Linked DNA regions of Homo sapiens. The protein of the gene in region 2 interacts with the protein of the main gene of each other region in a pairwise test. Each region holds a gene or a part of one and is shown on either strand. Other genes may lie near its edges.

The links.
Region 1: the proteins of TBX21 (region 2) and HOXC11 interact in a two-hybrid assay, tested with the Homo sapiens proteins (one large-scale study listed by BioGRID and IntAct).

The regions. Positions count from the first base shown.
Region 1 is NC_000012.12:53,971,974-53,975,925, reverse strand, and holds the start of HOXC11 (homeobox protein Hox-C11), read right to left. Parts: upstream 2,801-3,952; 5' UTR 2,685-2,800; coding exon 2,003-2,684; intron 1,029-2,002; exon of another isoform or gene 972-1,028; intron 746-971; coding exon 513-745; 3' UTR 1-512. UniProt on the Homo sapiens protein: Sequence-specific transcription factor which is part of a developmental regulatory system that provides cells with specific positional identities on the anterior-posterior axis. Binds to a promoter element of the lactase-phlorizin hydrolase gene.
Region 2 is NC_000017.11:47,743,236-47,746,622, reverse strand, and holds the end of TBX21 (T-box transcription factor TBX21), read right to left. Parts: intron 2,429-3,387; coding exon 2,270-2,428; intron 2,142-2,269; coding exon 2,080-2,141; intron 1,876-2,079; coding exon 1,257-1,875; 3' UTR 501-1,256; downstream 1-500. UniProt on the Homo sapiens protein: Lineage-defining transcription factor which initiates Th1 lineage development from naive Th precursor cells both by activating Th1 genetic programs and by repressing the opposing Th2 and Th17 genetic programs.

The DNA of each region.
Region 1 (3,952 bases), on a different chromosome or scaffold from region 2:
GGTACAGAAATTTCACAGCAAGGCAGGATCACATTTAGCTGCAAGGTGGGGCGGGGTAGAGGGGGGAGCTCGAGAAGTTTCCGCTGGCAGACATGCTGTCTTAGCGGATCTTTTCACATGGGCAAGGGAAGGCTTTTAGTTCGAGGATTGTTCGGCTCAGGCGCTCACTACTGTCGCCCCTCCCCCACCTAATCCGAGCAGCAAGACATTGTCGCCGAGGTGTGTTTTCTTTTAAATCAAAGTCTTGGCCTCGGCGCCAACGGTGTTCACTCGCCGTGCATCAGACACTTCCCTTCACCCCCTTTCCAGGCCCGGTCCCTGTCCCACAGCGAGAGTCAGATAGAGGGTCCAGGAGGTTCCGGAATGGAGTGCCGGCCACAGCGGTGGGGGCCAGCCCTGGCCACAGTCCAGTTTTCCACCGGCGGAAAGAAGACGAGTTAGAAAATAAAAAATAAAAATAAAATAAAATAATTTTCCCCTCCCCCCGCCCCCAAAAGGGCCCGGTCTGCAGGTTACAGCAGAGGATTTCCCGAGAAATACTGCAGCCGGTCTCTGCTCAGTTTCTTTTCTTTCATCCTTCTGTTCTGAAACCAAATTTTCACTTGTCGGTCCGTCAGGTTCAGCATCCGGGACAGCTGCAGCCGCTTCTCTTTGTTGATATACACGTTGAAGAAAAACTCTCGCTCCAGTTCCCGGATCTGGAATTTCGAATAAGGGCAGCGCTTCTTGCGGGTGCGGGGGGCGTCTGGAGGGAGGGGAGGGGGCAAGTGCGAGGAGAGGGGGGAGAGAGACACGTGAGACCCGGGCGACCCCAGCCCGCTGAGCGCTCAGCGGCCCTTCTCCTAGCCCACCGCGGGCAGCCCTCCCGCCAGGCGGCTGGCTCTCCTGCAGCCGCAGCACCCGGGCAAGCCTCGACCCCCTGCCAGGTCTAGCGGGTCCCCACCCCCCCGCCACTGCGCCACCCCGTCCCCAGTTCTCAGGCGAGAGCCGCGGCTGACAGGGTCTGGGACAGAAGGAAAGCCCTCCAGGTACACGTGCGTCCCCTCGGGCCCCCTGTCTGCTCCCCCTCCGCCCTCGGGCCCTTCCTGGGCCGCCCTCCTAGTGGTTCGGAAAGCCCAACCCCTCCCCCAGAAATCTGGGGGGAAAGCTGAGAACAGGCGCGAAGCAGTGAAATCTGGCGAGAGCAGTCGGGAGGCGGGGAGGAAGCCGGCCAGCAGGCACCGAGACACCAGAGAGCCGCTTCCGGGGCCCTGGCGCCCCGGGAAGCCCGCGGGGCAGCGCCTTCCACACCGCAGTTCTAGGCAAGCACTAAGGCCGCGGACCCGGGAGAAACGCCCAGACCCCCGCCTGGAACGCAGTGGAGTCCTGCGCCGCCTCGCCCCATTCCCCTGTCGCCGCTGACCCCAGAGTTGCTTGGGTTTCTGCTCGAGGACCCGCGAACACATAGTTTGAACATTTTCAAAACTAGTTTTAAGAAGGATCATAGCGGTCCTGGCTTGCCTCTCCGGTCTCAGGTTCTGCTCCATTGCTCCTCTCCCCCACCTCTCCCCCTCTCTGGATCTCTCCCTGTCTTTCCCTCGCCCTCCCCTTTCTCCCCCTCCACCCCTCCCCTCCTCCCCACTCCTCGGCAGCCCGGCTCCCCATACTTCCTTAAATGCTCCTCTAAGTTCACGATCAAAGTTAATATCGCCCGCAATGGTTGCGCTTTTAAAAATTTCACAGACCGAGGGAGATAACGGGGGAGGGGGGTTCACCCGGCTTTTCCAAAGAGCCCTTTTCCCTCCCTCCCCACCCCTTCTCCATCGTAAAAAGTCGAGTCGTTGGGAGAGAGGGCTTTGTAGGTTATAATAAAATCCTTTGAATGCTTATAAAACTCCACATAAAATCGGACTGACCCAAAACACGAGGCCGTCCCCGCTCCCCTTGCCTCCCCCCTTCTCTCGCCCTCCCTCTCTCGCTCCCTCCCTCGCTGCCCGCCCGTTCCCCGGCCGCTGCTACCTACTGGGGGCGGCTCCTTTGGCCGGCTCCTTGGCCACGGAGTGGGCTGAACCGGACGAGCTGGGATTTGTGTTCTCCTCCTCAGCCTCCGCCTCGGCACCCGCCTCAGCCCGGGACGCCAGTCCCGAGGCCGGGGGTGCCTCGGGCTCCCCCTTGGCCTCGCCCTTGCCGGAGCAGGGGGGCTCGGCGGGCGGGTCGCCGCCACCGCAGTAGGCGTTGTCGAAGAAACGGTCGAAGGCTTGAGGCAGGACGCTGTTCTTGTTGACTGAGGAGTAGAAGCCGGCGGGGGTTGCGTGCGGGGCGCTGGGGTGGTGGTGGCCGCCGTAGGAGCCTTCGTTTTTCATGAGGATCTCGGTGACGGTGGAAGGAGGCAGGCACTCCCGGTGCATAAGCTCGTCGGCCGCCGCATAGCAGGAGGAGTAGCTGTTCCGATGGTGCCACTTGCCGGATGGCTCCAGGCCGTAGGAGACCTCCCGGACCGGGGGCACTTGGGCCGAGTAGGGATAGGAGATCTGACGAGAGGGGGCCTGGGGCAGGAAGGAGGAGACCGTGGAGAACTCGGGCATGTAGTAAGTGCAACTGGGCAGATAGAGGTTGGAGGCGCAGCTCCCTCGCTCGCCGAAATCTGCGCCCCTCTCCTTGCGCGACGGAGAGCAGAAGTTGCCCAGGTTGACCGAGTTAAACATCGTTCTCCTCTCCTGCCGGCTCCGGATGGAGGTTTTGGACCCGGTCTAGCGAGGGGGGAAAATTTGGGAAGGCGAGATGACGCGTTATCCGTCTTAGTCTCTCTCTCTCTGAGCACGTGATCCAAAGTAGATATTGTCATATATCAGTTCGGAGCACTTCGCAGACGTAGGAGGGGTTCTCTCTTAGGTAAGATCGGGGACGTTCAGGCGATTGGTTTGCAAACACCGCAGAAACATTATGAAAATCAATTGCAGATTTGTATTCGTTTTTCTCTCGTCACTCCCCTTCTCTCCATACCACAGCACGAGCAAAGGAGGAGAGAGAGGGTTGGGGTGGGGTGGGCGGTGGGATGGGCGAGGGTGGTGGCTGGGAAGGGGTAATTGTATTTTTTTCTAGCTGCTGCTCTTTTTTCCCCCAGGATTGGGGGAAGGAGGAGGGCTCTCATGTATGGGGGTCTTGCCTCCTCTCTGTGAGCAGCACCAGGAGGGTGGGAGTGAGGACTTCTTTCCCCACTGCCTGATTTCCCCAGAGAAGTGAATCCTTTCCCTTAAATCTCAGGGACTCTTACCCTTCCAACCCGCAGAGACACCGCCTGTTCACAAGAGTTTGAAGAAGTCCACTCTTTTCCTGGCCAGAGCTGGGTGTCAAGACTACCTTTCTGGAGTCCTTAGAGAGACTCCCGGAAGAGTATCTGAAGTTTCCCAAAGGTGAGGCAGCCCAGCTGCAAGCCAGTGTCCCAACTTTGTCTGGCTTGCTGTGCTGCCCCTGGCTAGGGAGTCAGATTAGTCATAAACGAGTGGTGAGCAGTGCGCCAGCCGCCCAGCCGGTGCCTGGCGAAGTCTGGGAAAAACCTTCTCTAATGTTGTGTTAAATATTTAGTATGAGAGAGTGGCCCTGGGTGAATATTTCATGCCTGCCTTTATTGTCAATCAATGTGAAGAAAGCTACATCCACTGTGGATTTTCAAATCCCAAACCCCAAAGAAAAGGATTGGAATGAGAGCCATGTATCTTCTATGTCAGGGCCCTTTGGCTTAGTGGCTCAGCCTCAGCTAGTGCGCTGAAAAGAAGCCTAGTGTAGGGGTCCAGGAAGAATATGGTGGGGGGGACTAGGTTTGGGGTTCTTATCCTTGGATGATTTTGAGGACTGTAAGGTGGGTGGTGGGGCCAGGTATGGGTCTCCAGAAGAGACTAACCAGACAGTGGAAAGGAGCGGTGGATGCTGTGGCATCAGGGGAGGCCCAGCGGCCACTCCCTAGTCAAAGCCC
Region 2 (3,387 bases):
CTTAAACCCTTTACATGTATTAGCTTGAGTCACATAAAATTGCTAATATTTGGCTTTTCGACCTACAAAAATGGTAATTTCACATGGCTCATTTTATATTTATTTCTTTAATCCTTGAATAACCCTAGAGATAAAGGTGGAGGGCTGCTAGAAATGCAAAGAAAAATCAAGTGCCACCGCCTCACAGCGCCCTGCACCCCCGCTCCCAGTCCAGCCCTTGGCCTTGCCCTCACACCCCTCCTTTCAATGTCAGGGTGCACACAGGGCAAGGGATTCTTCTCTGTCCGTCCCAAGATGCCTTAAGAGGTAGCATCAACCAACCCCCTGAGTGCTGAAGGTAGGACATGTGGCCTTGCTGTAACTCAGCTGGAGTCATTTCAGGGTCTTAGCAGGTTCCCCATAAATGAAAGCTGACAGAACACCTTGGGTACACCAGCTTGGGTACAACCCCAACTGAGTCCCCATCCATGTCCCCCCATGCTGGCACTGAGGCAGGCACATTCAACAGTTTTATGTTTATTTTCAGAAAGTGATGAAGACAAAAGGAATATATCCAGACACCACTCTCAGTACAATAAATAGCCTCCCCCATTCAAAAAAAATAAAAAGAAAGAAAAAGAAAAAACACACACCCACACACAACCACCACAAACAATATCTTGCTTCTTGAGATGTGGGCCATTCCCCCCTTTCCAGCCCCTTTTCTCTGATCCCCACTGTGTTTGAGCAGGGGGAGCCCAGGCCAGCTGTCCAAAGTCAGGTGAGTCCTTTCCCTGACCCTGGCGGGCTGATGGTTATAACATACGTGTATTTGTTCTTTTTGGATCAGGGATTAACACACATGCCAACGAAAAGGTTGAAAGTTACTGTACAAAGGAAGAAAGTGGAGTCTCCTGCTCCCATGTCCCACACCTGACCCCTCCCACCCACTAGATGCAAAAAGCTCCTTCATGCCCAAGACTTTCTTGTCTTCTTTTCTCCAGCTGGAAACCAAAAGCAAGACGCAGCACCAGGTAAACGACTGTAGTTAGGGCAGAGGATGGGGCAAGGGGACACCCCTCTCAGGTTTCATCGTGGGCCAGGAAGCATCTGGTGAACCCCAAAATCCTTCTTGAGCCCCACTTCCCCAACCAACTACTAAACAGAGAAGGGCCAGAGGGAGCGGGGGCCTTCTCAGTCCTTCATCCGTTTCCCAAATTAGTCGGTGTCCTCCAACCTAATAACACTGTTTCTGTTCCTTTCATCATGTCATCTGCTCAGTTGGGAAAATAGTTATAAAACTGTCCTTCAGCTTCCTTATCAAAAGGAGAAGGGGCCCCAGCAGGGGAGGAGCTGTCACCACTGGAAGGATAGGGGGACACGCGCCTCCTCTTAGAGTCTCCTTCGCCCAGTCCTGAATCACTGGATTCCGGCCGGATGGGGGCAATCTCAGTCCACACCAAGGGGGGACCCTGGTCCTCTGGTCCCCGTCCCTCTGAGCCTCCAGGGCCGGGTTCCATGGGCAGAGTCCGCATAGGGCGGAACCAGCTGGCCGGGCCCATCTTGGGAGGGTACTGGGGTGCCACAGGCCAGCCAGCTCCAGGTGCCAGGACCTCCTGGCCTCGGTAGTAGGACATGGTGGGCCCAGGGGCAGAGGGCAAGAATGCAGGCTTCATGCTGACTGCTCGAAACTCAGCCTCATAGCTGTGGTCCCGGGGGGCCCCCAGCCAGTAAGCCTGGGGAACCACATCCTTCGCCTGGCCAGGAAGGTCGGGGTAGAAGCGGCTGGGAACAGGATACTGGTTGGGTAGGAGAGGAGAGTAGTGATCTCCCCCAAGGAATTGACAGTTGGGTCCAGGCGGGGAGGGGATGCTGGTGTCAACAGATGTGTACATGCTAGAAAAAAATAGAAGGCAAGAAAACGGGTCACAAGCAGAACCAGTCACCTGTGAGCCTACCTGTTTCACACATTCCTTCTCCGACCCTCCTTCCCTGGCCTGCCCACCTGTAGCATCTGTCCCCCACCCTCCTGTTTTCAGGGGCAGGGAGAGGATGTGTCTCAGGAGGGACCAAAGCTGAGTTGAACCCAGTGGCACTTACGACTCAAAGTTCTCCCGGAATCCTTTGGCAAAGGGGTTATTATCAATTTTCAGCTGAGTAATCTAGAGAGAAGGGAAATAGAGTCACCTGAGTCCTGAGTCTGGGGCTCGGGAACTTTCCAAATCCCTCCCAAGGAAGACAGTGGGCCCCACTCTGCCCTCCTCCCCACCGGGGCTCAGGCAGCCCTCACCTCGGCATTCTGGTAGGCAGTCACGGCAATGAACTGGGTTTCTTGGAAAGTAAAGATATGCGTGTTGGAAGCGTTGCAGGCTGCCTCTGGCTCTCCGTCGTTCACCTCAACGATATGCAGCCGGGGCTGGTACTTATGGAGGGACTGGAGCACAATCATCTGTAGACAGAGCAAGACGGTTGTAGGGGTGGGGAGGAAGGATTTCGAGGATCCCATCACCCCCACCAACAGCTGGCCCCACGTGAGGCTAGCAAGCACCTTGAGGTCATCCTGTCCATTCCCCTGCTCTGCCACCATGTAACTTCCCCCAAGCTTTCCAACTCCAGTGTCCGGACTCTTTGGGGCACCAATTCTAGCCTCTTGCCCCCTCTTCTACCTCCAGATGTCAATTGAGACCAAGGTATCAGCACAAACAGGGCTTTAGGGCAAGGGCACTTTTTTTTCTTTTTTCTTTTTTCTTTTTTTTTTTTTTTTGAGACGGAGTCTCACTCTGTCACCCAGGCTGGAGTGCAATGGCATGATCTCAGCTCACTGTAACCTCTGCCTCCCGGGTTCAAGCGATTCTCCTGCCTCCGCCTCTTGAGTAGCTGGGATTACAGGCACCCGCCACCATGCTTGGCTAATTTTTGTATTTTTAGTAGAGACGGGGTTTCATCATCTTGGCCAGGCTGGTCTTGAACTCCTGACCTTGTGATCCACCCGCCTTGGCCTCCCAAAGTGCTGGGATTATGGGTGTGAGCCACCACACCCAGCCAGCAAGGGCACTTTTAACAGGATTGTTCAACCTAGAGAAACTCGGCATCTATTCCCTGGGACCACAGGGCCAACTCTGTGCCTTTCATGGTGCCGGAGCAATGGCAACCCATGATTTGGTGAAGAAACCCTGAGGCTGGGTTGGCCTGTGTGGCCTGAATATGACCCCCGTCCAAGATTCAGCTTCATCCCATCTCATCTTCCTCCCAAGGTGGGTGAGAAACAGCCAGAGTTTAGGAAGGAGGAAAAATGACCCTTCGTTTAGGACAGAAGAAAAACGAACCTTCCTTCCTGTAGGAAGGAAGAAAAAATGAACCAAACTGGCCCCGCAGGACCCTTGTGGCCTTGGAGGTCTCAGACCCAGG